Regions from separate parts of the Homo sapiens genome. Here all the other regions are reported to be linked to region 4. The links are microRNA targets in miRTarBase. Many come from high-throughput screens and were not tested one by one. Region 4 holds a microRNA gene; each other region holds the end of a gene's coding sequence.
What was found. The annotated mature microRNA hsa-miR-34b-3p reads CAAUCACUAACUCCACUGCCAU and lies in region 4 at 1,254-1,275, opposite strand. An mRNA with a match to its seed (bases 2 to 7 or 8) in the 3' UTR can be bound and repressed. Matches are read on the target gene's strand: a 7mer-m8 pairs with bases 2 to 8, a 7mer-A1 pairs with bases 2 to 7 and ends in A, and an 8mer does both.

Region 1 (4,137 bases), not on the chromosome of region 4:
GTGGCAGAGGCATCCAGGAGCTTAGTATTCTCCCCTCCCGGCACCTCCCTGCCTTGCCCACCCCTCCCACGTTTCCCTCATCTTGCTTGGGCTTGGCTGGGCTAGCAGACCATCCCTGCTGCCAAGAACAGGCTGTTCTGACCAAGTCTCTGTTACAGCCACTGGGGAATGGCCGGGACCCAGAGGACGCTGTGATCAACCTTGCAGGGCCCATGGGGTCTCTCACCATCCCCGAGCCCTCTCCCAGCCTCTACACAGAGATCCAGTATCTAAGCCAAGTATGGACAGAAGGGCCCTGGGAAGGGAGGGGCTGAGGAGCCACCTTGCCTGCCTCCACTCTGACAATTAGAGGAAGTGGAAGGAGGCCTTTTCCTCAGCATCTGCTCCCCAAACCCCACACCCCCGCATCTACCCACCTTCCCCATTCACAGCCATAGGCCTAGCCCATTTCACCTGGGAAGCCAGAGCTTTTGACCTCACATCCTCTTTTTTTCCGGTCCAGAAAATTCCTGAATAGCTTGTTGGGAGTCACAGCTGACAGTGCTGTGGGCTGCACTGCCCTCAAGGCCACAACTGCGCCAGAACCCAGCCTGGGGCCTTGAGGGCACCCCGGGGGAGGGATGGATTGGGGTCATGAGAGGCCATGAATCAAAGCCTGGGAGTTCTGGGGAGTTGTTAGGTCCTGTGCCTCTGCAGATGGACGGAGGGCTGGAACTTGTGGAAAAGGCTGGGTGGACGCAGCAGCTACCTGGGGACCACCCCTCACACCTCCCACCCCTTCATCTGGGTTCTGCTCTCCAAACCCCACTGTTGTCTTTACAGACTGCGGAGGAAAAGGAAGCCCCTTCCCAGGCCCCTGAGGGGGACGTGATCTCGATGCCTCCCCTCCACACATCTGAGGAGGAGCTGGGCTTCTCGAAGTTTGTCTCAGCGTAGGGCAGGAGGCCCTCCTGGCCAGGCCAGCAGTGAAGCAGTATGGCTGGCTGGATCAGCACCGATTCCCGAAAGCTTTCCACCTCAGCCTCAGAGTCCAGCTGCCCGGACTCCAGGGCTCTCCCCACCCTCCCCAGGCTCTCCTCTTGCATGTTCCAGCCTGACCTAGAAGCGTTTGTCAGCCCTGGAGCCCAGAGCGGTGGCCTTGCTCTTCCGGCTGGAGACTGGGACATCCCTGATAGGTTCACATCCCTGGGCAGAGTACCAGGCTGCTGACCCTCAGCAGGGCCAGACAAGGCTCAGTGGATCTGGTCTGAGTTTCAATCTGCCAGGAACTCCTGGGCCTCATGCCCAGTGTCGGACCCTGCCTTCCTCCCACTCCAGACCCCACCTTGTCTTCCCTCCCTGGCGTCCTCAGACTTAGTCCCACGGTCTCCTGCATCAGCTGGTGATGAAGAGGAGCATGCTGGGGTGAGACTGGGATTCTGGCTTCTCTTTGAACCACCTGCATCCCAGCCCTTCAGGAAGCCTGTGAAAAACGTGATTCCTGGGCCCCACCAAGACCCACCAAAACCATCTCTGGGGCTTGGTGCAGGACTCTGAATTTCTAACAATGCCCAGTGACTGTCGCACTTGAGTTTGAGGGCCAGTGGGCCTGATGAACGCTCAGACCCCTCCAGCTTAGAGTCTGCATTTGGGCTGTGACGTCTCCCACCTGCCCCAATAAGATCTGCTCTGTCTGCGACACCAAGATCCAGCTGGGGACTCCCCTGAGGCCTGCCTAAGTCCAGGCCTTGGTCAGGTCAGGTGCACATTGCAGGGATAAGCCCAGGACCGGCAGAGAGTGGTTGCCTTTCCATTTGCCCTCCCTGGCCATGCCTTCTTGCCTTTGGAAAAATGATGAAGAAAACCTTGGCTCCTTCCTTGTCTGGAAAGGGTTACTTGCCTATGGGTTCTGGTGGCTAGAGAGAAAAGTAGAAAACCAGAGTGCACGTAGGTGTCTAACACAGAGGAGAGTAGGAACAGGGCGGATACCTGAAGGTGACTCCGAGTCCAGCCCCCTGGAGAAGGGGTCGGGGGTGGGGGTAAAGTAGCACAACTACTATTTTTTTTCTTTTTCCATTATTATTGTTTTTTAAGACAGAATCTCGTGCTGCTGCCCAGGCTGGAGTGCAGTGGCACGATCTGCAAACTCCGCCTCCTGGGTTCAAGTGATTCTTCTGCCTCAGCCTCCCGAGTAGCTGGGATTACAGGCACGCACCACCACACCTGGCTAATTTTTGTACTTTTAGTAGAGATGGGGTTTCACCATGTTGGCCAGGCTGGTCTTGAACTCCTGACCTCAAATGAGCCTCCTGCTTCAGTCTCCCAAATTGCCGGGATTACAGGCATGAGCCACTGTGTCTGGCCCTATTTCCTTTAAAAAGTGAAATTAAGAGTTGTTCAGTATGCAAAACTTGGAAAGATGGAGGAGAAAAAGAAAAGGAAGAAAAAAATGTCACCCATAGTCTCACCAGAGACTATCATTATTTCGTTTTGTTGTACTTCCTTCCACTCTTTTCTTCTTCACATAATTTGCCGGTGTTCTTTTTACAGAGCAATTATCTTGTATATACAACTTTGTATCCTGCCTTTTCCACCTTATCGTTCCATCACTTTATTCCAGCACTTCTCTGTGTTTTACAGACCTTTTTATAAATAAAATGTTCATCAGCTGCATATTCCATCCTATCAGTGTGTCTCAATTTATTTAACCAATAGTCTATCACTCGATATTTAATTTGCTTCCATTTTTGCTATTGTAGATAAGTGTGGGTGAAATTTGCCTGGGGGTTTATCTGCATTGGGAGATTTCTTTTCCTTTTTCTTTTTTTTTTTTCTTGGAGACAGAGTCTTGCTCTGTCGCCCAGGTTGGAGTTGAGTGATGCAATCTCAGCTCACTGCAACCTCCACCTCCCTGACTCAAGCCATTCTCCTGCCTCAACCTCCCAAGTAGCTGGGACTGCAGGCATCTGCCGCCACGCTCCGCTAATTTTCGAATTTTTAGTAGAGACGGGATTTCACCATGTTGGCCAGGTCTTGAACTCCTGACCTCAAGTGATCCGCCTGCCTCAGCCTCCCAAAGTGCTGGGATTACAGGCATGAGCCACTGCACCTGGCCGGGAGATTTCTTAAAGAAGGATTTGCGTGCATGGAAGTGCCAGGTCATAGGGAGTGAACATTTTTGAAGTTACTGATGCCTCTTGCTAAACAGCTTTCTGGAGTGGCAGCACCAATTTCACCCCCACCAGACCCTTGCAATCAGTGTTTCTTGAAGTCCTCTGCACCTGTCCCTGCTGGAAAGGCAGGAGAAACAGTTCAATAATGGCCCTGTGATCAGAACCTCGAGGGCCTGGGGGACTGGGTGGAGGTGGAACTGGTCTGATGAAGCTAGAGCAGCTCACCAGAAGGTGCCAGCCTGTGCCCGAGGCCTCTGGGTTGGGGTTGCACCAAGTACCTTCTCTGGGTGGACAGTGAGCTCCCAGGCCCGAACTCTGTGTGCTGCACCCAGGCTCCAGGCACTGTGTGTGCCAAGGTGTTTGGGACATAGGGAGCAGCAAGTTTCACATGGTCCCAAATCTTCTGCTGGGACCTGGGCACACACACTGTCAGAATGCACCCTAGAAGTGCATCAAAAGCAGGCTTCCCCCCTGAAAAATCCCTTGGCTGGGGTTTCCCTGGAAGGAAAGAACCCTCCTGTCCTCTGAATCTCTCCTCACCTACTGGAGCCGGGGCTTCCTGGGAACCAGGAGGTGGTCAGCTTGGCCATCCCACTCCCATCCCTCACCCATTTGCAGACTGGGCTGAATAAATTGACATATTCTGAGAGGCAGAGCTCTCTCCCAGGCAACCTAGGATTGGCATCCATGGAATTCCAAGTTTCAGTGGATTTATGAGACACATAAATATTACTCAGAGACACTCTCTTATTCCCACAGTACCACCAAGAGGGCCCAGCTCCCTCCTGACAGGTAGGGGAGAAAGACCACTCCCTTACCAGTTGACACTTTGCAATCCCCCATTTTGATACACCTTGGTTTGATGTTTGTACTTGAATACTCAGATCTGCAGTCTTTGGTATTTACGTGAGATTTTATTCAATCCCCTTAAACAAAAAGAAGCAACAAGTCACTGCTCACCTATCCTGAGAATGAGGGACTTTTG
Region 2 (4,137 bases), not on the chromosome of region 4:
CAGCCTCGTGCTATTCCAGCTGACAACTACAAGTGCAGGATACTCTTGAGCTACAACTGTCAAGTTTGAGCCTTTCCCAAATCCTGACCCACAGAAACCACGACGTGAAACAATTACTGTTGTTTTAAGCTCTTCAGTTTTGAGGTTACACAGCAATAGTAATTTGGGATTGTTTCTAATGCCTGTATGAGACCCACATAGGGCCTCATAAAAAGAGGGAGTGGGTCTAGGGACTCAGTAAATGCTTAACACTTAGTTTCAAACCTCTTTCTTGGGGGCTACTTTGCTTTTTTATGCCAAATTTTCAATGTTATATATAGCAATGTTTTGTTTTTGTTGTTTTTGAGACAGGGTCTCACTGTGTCGCCCAGGCTAGAGTGCAATGGCATGATCATAACTAACTTACTGCAGCCTCCACTTCCCGGGCTCAGGTGATCCTCCCACCTCAGCCTCCTGAGTAGCTGAGACTGCACCATGCCTGGCTAATTTTTTTTGTATTGTTTTGTAGAGATGGGGTTTTGGCATGTTGCCCAGGCTGGTCTCGAACTCTAGGGTTCAAGCAATCTTTCTGCCTCAGCCTCCCAAAGTGCTGGGATTACAGGCATGAGGCACCATGCCCAGCCATGCTTTCTATTAATAGACTTTTTTTGGTTAAGAAAGCAATGATATTAGAGGCCTTAAGGAAGTTATATAACCTTCAAAACGTAAGCAGTGCAACAATTAAATCTCTTCTGGGAAGGAAAATGCTTTTGGCTAATGAGTTACGAACAAAACAAAATACAACAGGATTTCAACAAGGAAATGTATTTATTTTTTCTTTAGAATTTGGCTCAGAACAGTAACAAAAATATTTACATTAAAATAAATTAACATGCAATTACTTAACCATATGTAATAATTTACGTTGGAATATATTAGCCTTCCCATGAGTTTAATAAAAACTAATATTTGGTTTTAGATTCAATACCATCCTTTCAAATATTTGGTATGAAACTTGGTAGCAATGCAATTGTCTGATGTACAGAGCAGATTTCACCATGAGAGATTACACCAAAGAACAGATGTCCCTTCCCAGAACATTATCTCACCCCAGACTCAGAAACTGAGCAGCCAAGCTTCCTTCCCAGGAATCACCATGGAATGTCTGAACAATAACCAGGCCCTGGAGATTACTGCAGGGCTGGCAGAGTTTTAGGAATCAGCCAAACTCTTTTTCACACTAACCCACTAGGAAGGATATAGTTCAAATGTAATGTTGAGTCCTTCAGTTTATTTGAACACTGAAACAATATGTTGTAGAAACCTTCATTTTCCCAAAATAGAAATCTGAAAGATATATGCACATGATTTCTTAGATCATCTAAAAGTACCCATAAAAACCTGTCACTAGGGCCAGGTGTGATGGCTTACACCTGTAATCCCAGCACTTTGGGAGGCAGAGGCGGGCGGATCACCTGAGGTCAGGAGTTCAAGACCAGCCTGGCCAACATGGTGAAACCCTGTCTACTAAAAATACAAAAAAAAATCAGCCGGGCGTGGTGCATGTGCCTGTAATCCCAGCTACTCAAGAGGCTGAGGCAGGAGAATCACTTGAACTTGGGGGGCAGAGGTTGCATTGAGCCACTGCACTCCAGCCTGGGTGACAGAGTGAGACCCGTCTCAAAAAAATAGAACACCTGTCACTAGACCAAATACTATACTGGTAAAATTTCACAGCAGAGAGGAATATTTCATTAAATTCAGCTGATAGGGTCAAGGATACATTAAGTCATTTACAAATCAGATATTAGTATTAAAGTTTTTGGTGGCCTAGAGTGAATTAGAATATGTTAGCATTTTGAAAGTGTTTTTGAAATGAGAGGTTGTGTGGCTCAGCAGCAAAAGCACAGAGGGACCTGGGATCAAACCCTCTCTCTAGCCCCATAGCTTAACAGTCAAACACACCAAGTTCTATAAAATAAAAATTAAAACACCTACCTCATATGTTGAGATAATTTAGGATAATGTATATGAAGCACCTAGTTCAGAGCCTGGCACACAGTAGGCACTTAATAAGTGGTGGCAGTTAGTATTTCTTCCAAGTTAACAATTCATAGCCAGAACTTTGGCTTTTGTATTTTGACACCAATGAAAACACGAATCATGTAGACAGAATCCTGATTCATGGCTCTGGGCTCTAGGTAAAACTCAAAACTTTAATGGACACCCTAGGGTGTTACTCAACACAGTATGAAAGGCTACTGAAGGAAGAAGTGTCTGCTGGTCAGTAGCAAAGATCCTTTTGGGACAGTTAATCTCCTTTTAAAGGCTCTAAGTCCCAGTGGCTTCTCAGCTGTCCTAAGAAGATAAGGACAAGGTCACTAAGGCCACTGTAATTTAGATCCCTGGTCTAAAGTCTCTTGTAAGTTCAGCTAGAGTAATAACATCTTTCAACAAATGGTATCCAGGATTAGGGGGGATATCTGAGATGGGGGAGTGATAGATATGTCCAGTGTCTTGATTGTGGTGATGCTTTCACAGGTATACATATGTCAAGGCTTATCAAATTGTAGGCTTTAAAAACAATAAAGCTGTTTTAAAAAAAAGTGTACTTAAGCCCTTCCTGGTAAGATTTCCCTCTGTTCTCTGACTGGATCACCTTCTGTGATCTTAGTTTGGGGTTAGAGGAGGAAGGATGTGTGTGTGTGTGTGTGTGTGTGTGTAGACGGAGTCTCGCTCTGTCACCCAGGGTGGAGTGCAGTGGCATGATCTCGGCTCACTGCAACCTCCGCCTCCCGGGTTCAAGCAATTCTCCTGCCTCAGCCTCCCGAGTAGCTGGGACTACAGGCACATGCCACCACGCCCGGCTAATTTTTGTATTTTAGTAGAGATGGGGTTTCACCATGTTGGCCAGGCTGGTCTTGAACTCCTGACCTCAGGTGATCCGCCCATCTCGGCCTCCCAAAATGTTGGGATTACAGGCGTGAGCCACTGCGCCCAGCTGGAAGGATTATTATTATTATTATTATTATTATTATTATTTATTATTATTATTTTTGAGATGGAGTCTTGCTCTGTCACCCAGGCTGGAGTGCAGTGGTGCGGTCTCAGTTCACTGCCAGCTCCGCCTCCCTGGTTCATGCCATTCTCCTGCCTCAGCCTCCCGAGTAGCTGGGACCCGCCACCACACCCAGCTAATTTTTTGTATTTTTAGTAGAGACGGGGTTTCACCATGTTTCACCATGTTAGCCAGGGCGGTCTCGATCTCCTGACCTCGTGATCCGCCCGCCTCGGCCTCCCAAAGTGCTGGGATTACAGGCGTGAGCCACTGTGCCCGGCCTGGAAGGATTATTAATGCAAACTTCAGGATGAAGTGATATCCCAGGCAAGGCCTGAAGGTCTCAGTGGTATTAATACATTAGTAAGCAGAGTTCTAAGAAGGCTTCCTCTCTATTATTGTAGCTGCTTTGGCACAGAAAATTGTGACTGTAACTTACAGGGTTTGAGCTAAAATGACCCCTAGTAAGAAGACATCAGAAAGAATAGCATCTACAAAAATAGGAGTGGGGAAAGGTGACTCTGGAAGAGGAGACCAAAAGTGAAAACATTTCTCTGCCAAAGTCACCTGCAGTTCAATACCAGATTTGATTGTTAAGAAACGGTCATCCTAAAGACAAGAACTTGATTCCACTCAGGAGCTCTGGAGAGAAGGTCCATGTCTGTTCCTGGAGGTCTAGTAGATCCTGCGTGTTGTGTAGTCCAGAACCATGCTGGCAGCACCCAGCAGGGCGGGGTCAACCAAATCCGAAACCACCACATCCACGTCCTGCACGGAGGACAAGGCCTGCTGGCGAATGACGTCTTTGACAATGTGGATATAGTGACTGGCCAGGACTCCGGAGAGGATCACAAGGGAGGGATTCATGGTATGGAGGATGTTCACAACCCCAAGACCCAAAGCTGTTCCAGCTATAGGGAGACAAAAATTAAAATGAGTTTCTGAGAGAAGCCAAAATCAAAATACCAAAGAGGAAGGCAGAAAAGAGCCAGCAGCAGAAATGTTAAAGAACATCCACGGCATGCAGTGGGAGGCAGTGTTTTAAAAGCAGTTCACGGTTGATTCTTAATATGAGAAAATGATCATGTGACAGCCTCAAG
Region 3 (4,137 bases), not on the chromosome of region 4:
CCTCCGGTGGCGGTTCATTGAGTTGCCGGTTAAAGTTTTATTTTAAGCCTTTTCATGTGTAGAAACCTACTCACTTCATTGTCATAGAATGAGTCATCACTGACTAATACCCAAGACTGAAGTTAAATTGAGCAGGATAAATTTTTTTTAAAAGATTTCTTTTAGCTGGACAGGGTAATGAAGGAGATACAGCTTCAGAGGTATCCAGGTCACGCACAGTGGGTGAGACTATTCCACCCCAGGCCTCCGTAACACTCTTCAGGATGGGAGGGACAGATCACATTTGTCTTGAAAAACCGTCATTCTAACAAAAGTGCATGTCTGTTCCTGTCAGTTGCTATGGATTTGAAGAAGTTAGCAGAAAGGAAGTGGTTAAGCTAAAACATGAGCTATTCAGCTGTCCTGGATTCAACCAGGGAGCTTATCGTTAGCACGTAATCAAGGCATTTGCTTAATGAAGTGATTATTTGTTTAAATCATGGTGTTAACTGATAGGAGATTTCACAATTTCATAGCAGTAATGTCCTGGGAAGGGAAAGTGTTTTATTGATAGTACTAGCTCTGCTTATTCAATTTCAGGATCTATGGATGAAGTGTTGGCCTCCTTAAGGCATGGCAGAGCTCCTCTCCGGAAGGTGGAAGTGCCGGCGGTGCGCCCTCCCCACGCCTCAATCAATGAGCACATTCTGGCTGCCATAAGGCAAGGGGTCAAACTGAAGAAAGTTCACCCTGATCTTGGCCCAAACCCCAGCAGCAAACCAACCAGCAACAGACGCACCAGTGACCTTGAGAGGAGCATCAAGGCTGCGCTCCAGAGAATCAAGAGGGTGTCTGCTGACTCTGAGGAGGACAGTGATGAGCAGGACCCTGGCCAGTGGGATGGTTAGGCTCAAGTTTGACAAAGGCACCTGCCACAGTAGGCTTGAATAAAGTGGGTGAGTCTTAGACCTATCGAAAAGCATACTAACAGGGTGCTGATAGATGGGCCACATAACACCCCGGAAGATCAGCAGGGCCTTGTGTAGGCTGCTGCAGCATTTTTTTTTTTTTTCTTTTTTGAGATGGAGTCTCACTCTGTCGCCCAGGCTGGGGTGCAGTGGCGCCATCTCGGCTCACCGCAAGCTCCGCTTCCCAGGCTGGGGTGCAGTGGTGCGATCTTGGCTCACTGCAAGCTCCGCCTCCTGGGTTCACGCCATTCTCCTGCCTCAGCCTCCCGAGTAGCTGGGACTACAGGCGCCACCACCTTGCCCAACTAATTTTTTGTATTTTTTAGTAGAGACGAGGTTTCACCGTGTTAGCCAGGATGGTCTCGATCTTCTGACCTCGTGATCCGCCTGCCTCAGACTCCCAAAGTGCTGGGATTACAGGTGTGAGCCACCACGCCCAGCCTTTTTTTTTTCTTTCTTTTGAGACAGAATCTCTCTGTCATCCAGGCTAGAGTGCAGTGGCACGATCTTGGCTTACTGCAACCTCCACCTCCCAGGTTCAAGCAATTCTCTGTCTCAGCCTCCCGAGTAGCTGGGATTACAGGCATGCACCACCACGCCTGGCTAATTTTTGTATATTTAAGTAGAGACAAGGTTTCGCTATGTTGGCCAGGCTGGTCTTGAACTCCTGACCTCGTGATCCACCTGCCTTGGCCACCCAAAGTGTTGGGATTATAGGCATGAGCCACCGTGCCTGGCTGATGCTGGAGCTTTTATGTGACATGGTGACTCTTAAAACTGGGGAGGGACGTAGAGATGAGAGTTTCACACACCAGCCCATAGGTGGGATGTCAAGACCCATCGGAAGTGTCGCTGGCCTAAGAGAAGAGCACTTATTTCTCACCATGGCTGATCTAGAATTGTTCCCTGATTCTGAAAGAAGTTTACACTACACTGGTAAGCAGTACTATTAGACTACTGACTGTGGCCTTCTGTGCATATGGAATAATGATTTCTCAGATTTGTAGGCTTGAATGTGAATGTTATTTTATCAGTAATCAGAATAAATTGCTTATATTCAGGAGTTATTTTAAATATTTAAATGAAATTTATTTTAGGCACCAAGCACTACATAAACTCATAATAACTATTTGCAATGCATTAGCATCACTCACGGGGTAATGAAAACATACCTTAGCTGCTGTAAAAGCAAAGTCTTCCGTGTCCGGGTGGGCTGAAAGTTTTTAATAAAATTTTAGCTAAACATTTGTTTAAGTGAATACTAAGGATGGAGCAATAGTGTTATTTTCCTCAGGAACTGAAGTCTCATGCTGAAGTATTTTCTCCTTAAAATTAAATTTTTAAAATCAGGGAAGGGGAAGGGACTGATGCAAAGCAGTCCGTTCATTTCTCAGACTGCGAGCATCCCTACTAACCTCATCACCCTCACTCTGGTGATATTACTCCTGGGTCTCCACAGAACAAAAGGAACGCACCTCGTTTACAAAGAAAGTCCTGATTGATATAGAACAGAAATCTTCCTACTTCAGTTTTTTTGTTTTTTTTTTTGAGACAGAGTCTTGCTCTGTCAACCAGGCTGGAGTGCGGTGGCACGATCTCAGCTCACTGCAACCTCTGCCTCCTGGGTTCAAGTGATTCTCCTGCCTCAGCCTCTCGAGTAGCTGGGACTACAGGCGTGTGCCACCACACCCAGCTAATTTTTATATTTTTAGTAGAGATGGGGTTTCACCATGTTGGCAGGATGGTCTCGATCTCTTGACCTCGTGATCCTCCCACCTTGGCCTCCCAAATGCTGGGGGTTACAGGCGTGAGCCACCACACCTGGCCTTCCAGTGTCTTAACTAACTGGTACACAGCAGCCTGAGGGGCCTCAGTTGGCACAGCTGGGAGGGGCGTGAGTCCCTTTCAGCAGCTGCAGCCTGGGTCTCCCTCTGTGGCATGGCCACTGCCAGGTTTCCCAGCCACTGCCAGGTTGCCCACGGGTCTGTCATGTGTGCTACCTTTTCAGAATGCAAATCCAACTCCTGTGTATGAATGAATGTGCCTCACTGTGCTGGCCCAGGCCTGATGGGCCAAGCCCTGACTCTGCACTGGCCCCTGTACCTGCCGCTCCCACCCAGGTTCCCAGGGGTGTTCCAGTGGGGGACGCAACCTGCGGGCTACTCGCTGGGCATCAGGTCCAGATCCCAGAGACAGGTCCAGTGGCTGTGGCCCAGGCCTCCTTCCCCACCACAGACAGGCCAGGCTCAGCATCAAACTTCCTAGGGAAAGAATTTGGAATTGAAAAAGTAGCAAAATCACAACTTTGTGGGACTTTTCTTATGCATATTTTGCAGTTTGGCATTGTTTGTAATTACGTATTTATAATTTCAGTATTTTGAGATACCAGCGAGCTTAATCAGGCTAAAATAATTCTCAGAATTTGCTTTCTAAGGGCTGCCAAACACAAGAGGCCTTTGAAAAAAGGATCCTTTTCAAAAGAACGTTCTCACAATAAAAATTCCTGGCCCAATTGTGTCTTCTGTGCATCAACGCTTCCTTTCCTCCTCTGGAACCTTCTCTCCTTCCTTTCTCCCTTTTCCTGCTTTTTCCAGCCAAGCCTTGAAGTCAATCCAGACTTTGGCTTCAGGGAATTCAGAGCCAAGGAAGTGGGGACAAGTGTCTCCTATTGCCCAGCTTCAGAGCTCTCCAGTCGGCCTCCAAAGCACTGCCAGTCTTCACCTCTCCCTGGCTTTCCAGCCCACACAGGAAGGGCAGCCCCTCAGCCTGGCAGACAAAACCCTCAGAGACTTGGTTGCCTCCCCTGGGCAGCCCCTGCCCCTGCCACAGGTTTTAGTCCAGCAATACCATGCTGCTTCCTGCCTGCCCCCAAAGGGCCTGCTCTCTTAAGTGCCTGGAATTCTCCCTGCACCCTTCATGTCCTGGCAAACCCATGCCCATCCTTAGGTCTCAACCCCACAGCCTTTTCCGCCAGGTCTTCTCTGACCTCTCTCTCCTATACAGCCATGTACTTTGTCTTGGGAGTCTGGTACAAAGGAGGACTGGCATCTGCTCCTAGTACAGCCAATCCTATGGATTGTCCTGGAGTGAAAAGCATTGAGCTAGGCCAGTCAGACTTGTGTATTCATCTGTTCGTCCATTCTCTCTTCAGAATTTGAACTAGGGAATCAGGCAGGTGGTAACGGCAGCC
Region 4 (4,292 bases):
ATTCTGAATCCTTTAAATCTTAGGAAACAAGCTGGATTTAAAGTGTAAGTGCATTTACTAATCACTCCCACTAAAAGTTGCATAGACTCCAACAGTTGTAAATGATTACTTAAAAGAAGGGATACATCTTAATGAGTGAACAGAGTCTCTTCATGGAAAAAAGAAGTATGAAAAATTTTGTTAATGTATTTCTTATAAAAGTATTAACAAGTCTGTGTGTATGAGTAGCTTTCCCGGGAGATTTTTGTCATGGCAGGAACAACTTAACCACTTCATTGATAGAAAAGTTAAGATTACTGTGGCAGGAACTGAGATGGACATCATAAAGTCAATTTAGCAAAGGAAATGGACACATAGCAATAACCACAATTTATGTCTTTATGGCACTTTATTCTTTCGAAATATTACTAACAATATTACTTTCAAAATATTACTAACAATATAGTCTCAAGAAGTTAATAATCACATGTTCATATAATAACATACATCAGTCAGCTAAGAAAAAAATCATATTCCCCCTTATATCTAAAATTTTGGTTAAGAGCCTGAAGGAATATTGAAAAAAAAACAAAACAAAACCCCACATACATACACATTACATACATTGTAAACTTAGTAGCTGAAATGTTGATTTTTTTCTTTTGGCTGAGCAATTAATAGGCAATGGATGAAATCAGCATTTTCCAACACCCCTCTTCCCCACGCACATTGATGATGCACAGGCAGCTCATTTGGACGAATTCCCAAATCTTTTTACCTGGCCGTGTGGTTAGTGATTGGTACTATTAGCAATCAGCTAACTACACTGCCTAGTAACTAGACTCATAGAAAAAATTGCAGTCTCAAGTTGGTACCCCAACACGTTGTGACAGGCAGGCAATTCATTGGTTGAGTTGGAGCTCAACTGAGTTGCTAGCTTGGTGAATACTCTACTAGACGATGGCAAATAGACACAGTGAATCACAGCATACAGTATTAACCGTTACATGGATGGAGGGGCTTCACCTCCAGGGATTTTGCTTTCCTGGCATGAGACTGTTTCATCTTCTGTGACTCCTAGAGAGAGCTAACAGTTTAACTGTATCTGGAGAAACCGCGGGTTTCCTCGCACTTGCAGCGGGCGCTCGCGGGGCAGGCTGCGCAGGACCCACGCCGACGCCGCGCTTCTCAGGCATCTTCTCTCGAAGGCTGCGGGCTGCCCGAGCCGGCGTCTTCTTCCCGGCCGGGCGGCGGTGATGCTGTGCCTTGTTTTGATGGCAGTGGAGTTAGTGATTGTAACCACCACAGTACAATCAGCTAATGACACTGCCTACAAACCGAGCACCGGGCACCCGCGGCTGCAGCTCCCGGACGGTCCGCAGCGCCGACGCGGGGTCGGGGCCCGCCTCGGACCCCATTTCACCGGGGGACGCCCTACCATGGCTGGGCGCAAGCGGCCCCCGAGGACACCCCCGGGCCCAGCGGGACCCCCGCCGGCCTCGCAGCGCACAACACGCGTAGCTGGGCCAGCGGGCGGCGCTGCCGGGGAGGACCCGCGCCCTCCCAGGCCGGGAGCCGCGCCCCGACCCCCATGACCCCCAGGAGTGCCAGGCCTCCCCTTCCCGCAGCCTCCCGCTCCTCTCAGGGCCCTCCCGCTCAGGTTCCCCTCGCTTTTCCTTTCCCCTTCGCCTCCTCGGCCCGGGCTCCCACTTCCTTCACGCCAGGCTTCAGTTCCCAGCCCCAAACCCTAGAGCTGGCTCTCTCGACCCCGTGCGCCCCGCCGCTCTGAGCGGCCGAGTGACTGTGGCGGGGGCGACCAACCGTCCTTGGAACCCCGCGGGCCGAGGGGCGGGGCGGGCGCGAGACGGGGCGGGTGGGGGAGGGGATGGGGGGGGGGAGGAGGCTGAGAGAAAGCGCTGTGGGCGGTCCCTGAAGGGCCTCCAAGGGAGACGCCTAGAAGATGGAGGCCCAGATTCTTGAGACGTTTCTCTTTCTGATCTAGCAGGAGGGACAAAGAGCTCCTCCACTCCCTCATTCCCCAAGAAGGCCCCCAGCCTACCCAGTTTCCGTGACCATTCCGCCCTGGGAAAGCGGCTTCCCAGGTACCTCAAATTATAGGTTTGAATTTTCCAAATGGAGGTGGGCTTGGGTAGCCTCTGACATATGGGAGGATGGCTTGGAGAGTCTCATCTGCACCTCTGTGCTCTGTTGGGGACTTGGCCTTATACTCTTAGAGGGCCATGCAGTGATGTGAAGCCTGGGCCTTCTAGTCAAATAGTGAGCCAGGCAGCTTGTTAGTTACATCAAATCGTGGTCCTCTTGAGATCAAGGCCATACCATTCAAGACAGTATATATATAATAAATTACTAAACTAGGGACTATTTAGAATAGTAGAAACTATTTGTATCAGAAATAGAAGGGAGGTCCTCAATGAGAGCTGTAATAGGTCAAAGAAGGTTCCCAGAGGAGGTGAGACTTGAGTAGATCCTTGATGCACGAGTACATTTGGATATTCAGGGTTAGGGCTGTGGATGCCAGAAAAACAGTATCTTGTGACAGTTGGGCAAAAGGGACAGTTACAGAGGACTTCTGGGAGATCTCTGCTAATAACTTTCCTTCCCCTCCTTTGCCTTTAATGAATTAATCAGGAGAGGATAAGGAATGTTCTCTTTATCCTCACCTTGTGAAATTCAGCTGGAAGCAGCCTCCCCTAGAAATATGGTCTTCATGCATCCAGTATAGAGCACCCATTGCTGACACCAAAGGCTTAGTTCTAAATTAGTTTCTGCAAAAGAAAACTTCCCACCTATAGATTGATTCCCTAAAACCAGCAAATGGTCTCATAGATGCCACAAGTAACATGAACAGGGGCAGGTCATCTGGATCATTCAATACAAACTACAAACTCACACTATTAAAACAACTAAAGAACTGCCCAAGGATGTTTGAATAAGTTATAGCATTTTCTTTGCATATGAAAGACAGCACTTTTTTTCCAAATGCATACTTTGTTCTGTACACCCCATAGTGAAGGGAAAGAAACCAAAATACAAAATATGTAGCACAGAAAATGTTAATTGTAAAAATTAACTCGTAGAATTAAATTGTGAAAGACAAGCCATCTACAATAACTGTATTTTGTATTCATCTTATCTTTGTGAGGGGCACGGTGTTTTAGCACACATTACATAAATGACTCACATTCACCTAAATATACATACATGAAACTAGGAGCAAAATAGTCTTCATTCCATTAACAATATGCAGACTTAGAGAAATCTTGGTTAGGAGATAGTTATAAAAATGATTCTCTTCTACCAAATTGTTAGTCACTTTTACCCAATACTATATCGAACACTTCTTCCCAACTGATGTTTTATGATTATTAGTTGCATCTTAAATATCTTACCTGAGCTGGATTGCTGCCATCCAAGGCAATGGTTGGGTCAGATGCCTTGAAAAGTAGGTTTCTACAGACTTTTCTTCAAAAGTAATAAAAAATAAAACTCATATGTAAAAGTCATGAAGATGCATTGCCTACTGAAATAACTTTTTAAAATGAGTTTATTTTCTATGTAGTACAACTAAAAATTTAAATAACGACAAAAAATATGTGTGGCCTAGTTCTGTTGAAAAAAAAAAAAGAATGCTTGTTCTTAGGGTTGCTGTTGATTTGGCCTGCAGTTACTAGAGAAACTCCAAGGATCTCATTCCCTTTATGGTTCATGTCTAGGCATGCCTGGAGACCAGGGAGACCCATGATTTAATCTAAGTAAGAATGCTTGTGGTGTTTTAAATGCCCACACAGAGGATTGCATTTGTTTTAGACAGTACAAGGAAGGCACCTTTCAGGGGAATTGTTTACTGTTTTAATTTCTGGGCTTTTGGTGATTAGGGAGATGGAAAAGGAGCTATCAGGAGAGACAAGGTTGATGACTAGGAGGAAGCCAAGAAGAGTGTAGAAAACAAATACCTTCTGCTTTAGCTTTGGCACATTTATATTGACTTAATTTACCACTTCTAGATACAAGACTAGATTGATGGGAATTGGGAATTAGAAAAGGTGGAGACAGGCCGGGGGTTGTGGCTCACACCTGTAATCCCAGCACTTTGGGAGGTCAAGGCGGGCGGATCACGAGGTCAAGAGATAGAGACCATCCTGGCCAACATGGTGAAACCCTGTCTCTACTAAAAATACAAAAATCAGCTGGGCGTGGTGGTGCGCGCCTGTAGTTCCAGCTACTTGGAAGGCTGAGGTGGGAGAATAGCTTGAACCCGGGAGGCAGAGGTTGCAGTGAGCCGAGATCGTGCC
Region 5 (4,137 bases), not on the chromosome of region 4:
GGCTGGTAGTCCTTCCCGGGAATTCTTCTTGCTTCCCGCTTTCTGTGGAACTCTGCCTTCCCCACTCTGCCTCTCTGCTTGTTCCTGGGCCCCAGGACCTCTTTCCCATCTTCGATCTCTTAAGTCATACCTTGGGAGGCCTCCCCCAGCCCGCCGTGTAAAGAGGGCTGTCACAGCTTCTGCTGTCACAGAAGCATTACAATGTGCAGGTGCCTGTTAACATCTGCCTTCCCCACTGATCTGGAGCTCCACAAGGGAGAGGGCACACCCAGTAGGTATGTGTGGGATGGATAGGAGGGTGGATGACACCCAGTAGATGTGTATGGGATGGATAGGAGGGTGGATGACACCCAGTAGGTGTGTATGGGATGGATGGGAGGGTGGGTGACCCCTAGTAGATGTGGGGGGGGTGGGTGGGTGACCCCCAGTAGGTGTGTGTGGCATGGATAGGTGACCCCCAGTAGACGTTTGTGGGACGGATGGGAGGGTAGGTAAGTGACCCCCAGGAGGCGTCTATAGGGCAGGTGGGTGGATGTGGATGAACAGCACCTTGTTTCTTCTTCCCAGGTGGCTTCTGGCACAGCAGCTTAATTGACCGGAACCTCATTGATTATTTTGTTCCCTTCCTCCCCCTGGAATACAAACACCTAAAAATGTGTATCCGAGTGGAAATGCAGTCCCGAGGCTATGAAATTGATGAAGACATTGTAAGCAGAGTGGCTGAGGAGATGACATTTTTCCCCAAAGAGGAGAGAGTTTTCTCAGATAAAGGCTGCAAAACGGTGTTCACCAAGTTAGATTATTACTACGATGATTGACAGTCATGATTGGCAGCCGGAGTCACTGCCTGGAGTTGGAAAAGAAACAACACTCAGTCCTTCCACACTTCCACCCCCAGCTCCTTTCCCTGGAAGAGGAATCCAGTGAATGTTCCTGTTTGATGTGACAGGAATTCTCCCTGGCATTGTTTCCACCCCCTGGTGCCTGCAGGCCACCCAGGGACCACGGGCGAGGACGTGAAGCCTCCCGAACACGCACAGAAGGAAGGAGCCAGCTCCCAGCCCACTCATCGCAGGGCTCATGATTTTTTACAAATTATGTTTTAATTCCAAGTGTTTCTGTTTCAAGGAAGGATGAATAAGTTTTATTGAAAATGTGGTAACTTTATTTAAAATGATTTTTAACATTATGAGAGACTGCTCAGATTCTAAGTTGTTGGCCTTGTGTGTGTGTTTTTTTTTAAGTTCTCATCATTATTACATAGACTGTGATGTATCTTTACTGGAAATGAGCCCAAGCACACATGCATGGCATTTGTTCCACAGGAGGGCATCCCTGGGGATGTGGCTGGAGCATGAGCCAGCTCTGTCCCAGGATGGTCCCAGCGGATGCTGCCAGGGGCAGTGAAGTGTTTAGGTGAAGGACAAGTAGGTAAGAGGACGCCTTCAGGCACCACAGATAAGCCTGAAACAGCCTCTCCAAGGGTTTTCACCTTAGCAACAATGGGAGCTGTGGGAGTGATTTTGGCCACACTGTCAACATTTGTTAGAACCAGTCTTTTGAAAGAAAAGTATTTCCAACTTGTCACTTGCCAGTCACTCCGTTTTGCAAAAGGTGGCCCTTCACTGTCCATTCCAAATAGCCCACACGTGCTCTCTGCTGGATTCTAAATTATGTGAATTTTGCCATATTAAATCTTCCTCATTTATACTATTATTTGTTACGTTCAATCAGAATCCCCGAAACCTCCTATAAAGCTTAGCTGCCCCTTCTGAGGATGCTGAGAACGGTGTCTTTCTTTATAAATGCAAATGGCTACCGTTTTACAATAAAATTTTGCATGTGCCATTGGTGAGTACGTTTTTGAAGAGGGAGAAGCGCCCCTCCACTGTAGACCTTATGAGGTAAGGCTGCGAGTGAAGACCTAGCAGAACAATCCAGGTTGGAAAGAAACGAAGTCTCACACAGGGATCTGAGGATCCTAGGATGGCTCTGTCCCCTCGCCCAGTGGTCTGGGAAGTCGCCCTCCATTGTGGGGTTCTTGGAGCTCCTGACACCCAGCCACGGAGTTCAAGTACAGCTGAGATGCCAGCAGGAACAGTGCCGTAGACTAAGGTAAGCACACCTTATTTTATCCAACATGCCTGTGTCCCAGCACGTGGGCAGTGCTCCCATGGGTGCGGCTGCTGCAGAGAGCACTGCAGGGGCCACTTCTAGTAGGCACAGAAGACGAGTTTGTGGCCTCGACTGCAGGTCTAACGCAGGAACCCTCTGCCTTATGGCTTCCCAGCCTGCATGGGGTCCCCCTAGGGCAGCCCAGGGCACCTAAAGATGGCTCCAAGCGTTAGAAAGTTCTTGGTATTGAGCTGCAGCCAGCCTGCTATGTCCCTGGGAGTCACAGATTAGGTCTAATCATTCCTTTGAAGAGTGTGGCCCAGGCACCAGAAGTCCCTAGTTAGAGAACACGGGTCCCCTGACAGTTTTGGAAGGTTCAGTCTTAGTAGATGAGGCAGTGTAGGTAGAATAGGAACTGCGTTAAGACTGAGAACCAGACCTAGAAAGTCAGTCTCCTGGGAATTGAGTAACTTCAGCTGAGAAAATAAGGGAGTGGGTGGGGTGATGGTGATGAGGGTTTGTGCTTTCTAGTAAATCTGCTAATCCTTAATCCTGTGAAGAGGGTGGGTGTTAGCAATTCACTGATGAGACAATACTGGATTATGTGTAATTAAGCTGAGATCAGATTAGCATAACTAGAATTTTTTTTGAGACGGAGTTTCACTCTTACTGTCCAGGCTGGAGTGCAATGGCACGATCGCGGCTCACTATAACCTCTGCCTCCCAGGTTCAAGCGATTCTCCTGCCTCAGCCTCCCTAGTAGCTGGGATTACAGGCATGTGCCACCACACCCAGCTAATTTTGTATTTTTAGTAGAGATGGGGTTTCTCCATGTTGGTCAGGCTGGTCTCAAACTCCCCACCTCAGGTGACCCACCCACCTCGGCCTCCCAAAGTGCTGGAATTACAGGTGTGAGCCACCGCACCCGGCCAGGATTTATTTACCAGTTTCAATGGTTAGGTTTCCTCACCTGAGCTCAGGTTCAGGCTGTCAGAGGTGAGTTTTACTTTACCAGTACCTCAATTTCCTCCCACGTTAATTTTGGGAGAAAGTCCATCTCTTTGATGAAATATCCATCAGCTAATTTAACTTCTATTTGTCTGGGGAAGAGCCTTTAAGGTAAATATTGCTTCTGTATCGCGCTGACTGCCCACCCGCCTGTCCCGGATATGGTGAGTCTCACAGCTGTGCTGCTGAAATTCATTCTGAACTTTGGAACCAAATAAACTAGAAAAAGTTAGCAAGTGGCATTTCACATGATAAAATCTAGAATTTACTATTTTATAGTCAGTAGGTCAATAAAGCTCTCGTCCACATCTTATAAGGGAGGTGGGGGAGGCGGGGTCATGATCAACCGTAGCCTTTTCAAGTTACAAATCAGTAACGGCAGTCCAAAGGTGGCAAACATATTTATTGCCTCACTGTAAATAGAGAAAATCTTGTCTTCTCTCGACCAGATGCCCAAAAGGTTATAAAAGAAGTATAACTTAGCTCCAATTTGAGGATATGTACTAAAAATTTTAAACGTCACCTTGGTGTTTTTTTCAAGACTAAGTGTGATACCACGTAAGGCATTTCCATGTCATAAATTAATTCTACCATATTTTTATGTAAAAAATGCTGCACGTTGTTGTGTCTGCAGCTGTGCTGTGATTATGAGACAGATACAATGATTCACACTGGCTGGAAGCTAAGTCTCACGTCCCAGGGATCAGGGCAGTCCAGCCCGGTGCTGCCACAAAGGGTGGTGGTATCAGGTCACACCTAGGACCTGCCACTTTAGACTGACCTTGTTTGATCCACGGTTGTGACCATGTATTACCACAAATTTAACAATAAAAAATTGTTTTAAGAGTATCTGAGAAAGGACTAAGCAGTCATTCCATTTTGTGTCCTTCCCTTGTTTTAAAATAAGCAACGTCCTATACTTCCATCATTTAAGATCATCAAGCTGACTTGTTCAGTCTGGGCCCATGTCATCCTTCCAGAACAAGCACATCCTAGGATTTCAAATGGTTCTAC

Region 1: miRTarBase lists CD300LG as a target of hsa-miR-34b-3p. Seed matches in the 3' UTR shown: 7mer-m8 at 2,144-2,150.
Region 2: miRTarBase lists GNE as a target of hsa-miR-34b-3p. Seed matches in the 3' UTR shown: 7mer-m8 at 1,585-1,591.
Region 3: miRTarBase lists WHAMM as a target of hsa-miR-34b-3p. Seed matches in the 3' UTR shown: 7mer-m8 at 2,578-2,584.
Region 5: the mRNA of TOR1A is a reported target of hsa-miR-34b-3p. Seed matches in the 3' UTR shown: 7mer-m8 at 1,517-1,523.

The regions. Positions count from the first base shown.
Region 1 is chr17:43,860,976-43,865,112 of GRCh38, forward strand. CD300LG (CD300 molecule like family member g) reads left to right here. Exons shown (of 7, transcript NM_145273.4): 7 at 823-2,664. The coding sequence ends at 936. Among named protein-coding and RNA genes, the nearest start is that of CD300LG, 16 kb to the left of the region's middle.
Region 2 is chr9:36,213,653-36,217,789 of GRCh38, forward strand. It overlaps GNE (glucosamine (UDP-N-acetyl)-2-epimerase/N-acetylmannosamine kinase), which reads right to left. Exons shown (of 12, transcript NM_005476.7): 12 at 789-3,948. The coding sequence ends at 3,713. It overlaps LOC124902151 (a long non-coding RNA gene), which reads right to left and starts at 359. Exons shown (of 2, transcript XR_007061474.1): 1 at 1-359.
Region 3 is chr15:82,832,650-82,836,786 of GRCh38, forward strand. WHAMM (WASP homolog associated with actin, golgi membranes and microtubules) reads left to right here. Exons shown (of 10, transcript NM_001080435.3): 10 at 580-3,459. The coding sequence ends at 887. It also overlaps a transcript of HOMER2 not described here. Among named protein-coding and RNA genes, the nearest start is that of WHAMM, 25 kb to the left of the region's middle. RefSeq lists enhancers at 1-836, 1-149.
Region 4 is chr11:111,509,970-111,514,261 of GRCh38, reverse strand. MIR34B (microRNA 34b) reads right to left here and starts at 1,324; the gene lies at 1,241-1,324. BTG4 (BTG anti-proliferation factor 4) reads left to right here and starts at 1,876. Exons shown (of 5, transcript NM_001367975.1): 1 at 1,876-2,081. It overlaps MIR34BHG (MIR34B and MIR34C host gene), which reads right to left and starts at 3,660. Exons shown (of 2, transcript NR_147706.1): 1 at 3,390-3,660; 2 at 374-1,244. It overlaps MIR34C (microRNA 34c), which reads right to left and starts at 823; the gene lies at 747-823. RefSeq lists an enhancer at 3,021-4,220.
Region 5 is chr9:129,810,653-129,814,789 of GRCh38, reverse strand. It overlaps TOR1A (torsin family 1 member A), which reads left to right. Exons shown (of 5, transcript NM_000113.3): 5 at 568-1,848. The coding sequence ends at 818. TOR1B (torsin family 1 member B) reads right to left here. Exons shown (of 5, transcript NM_014506.3): 5 at 3,509-4,137. Among named protein-coding and RNA genes, the nearest start is that of TOR1B, 9.5 kb to the right of the region's middle. RefSeq lists an enhancer at 2,151-2,200 and a silencer at 2,326-2,620.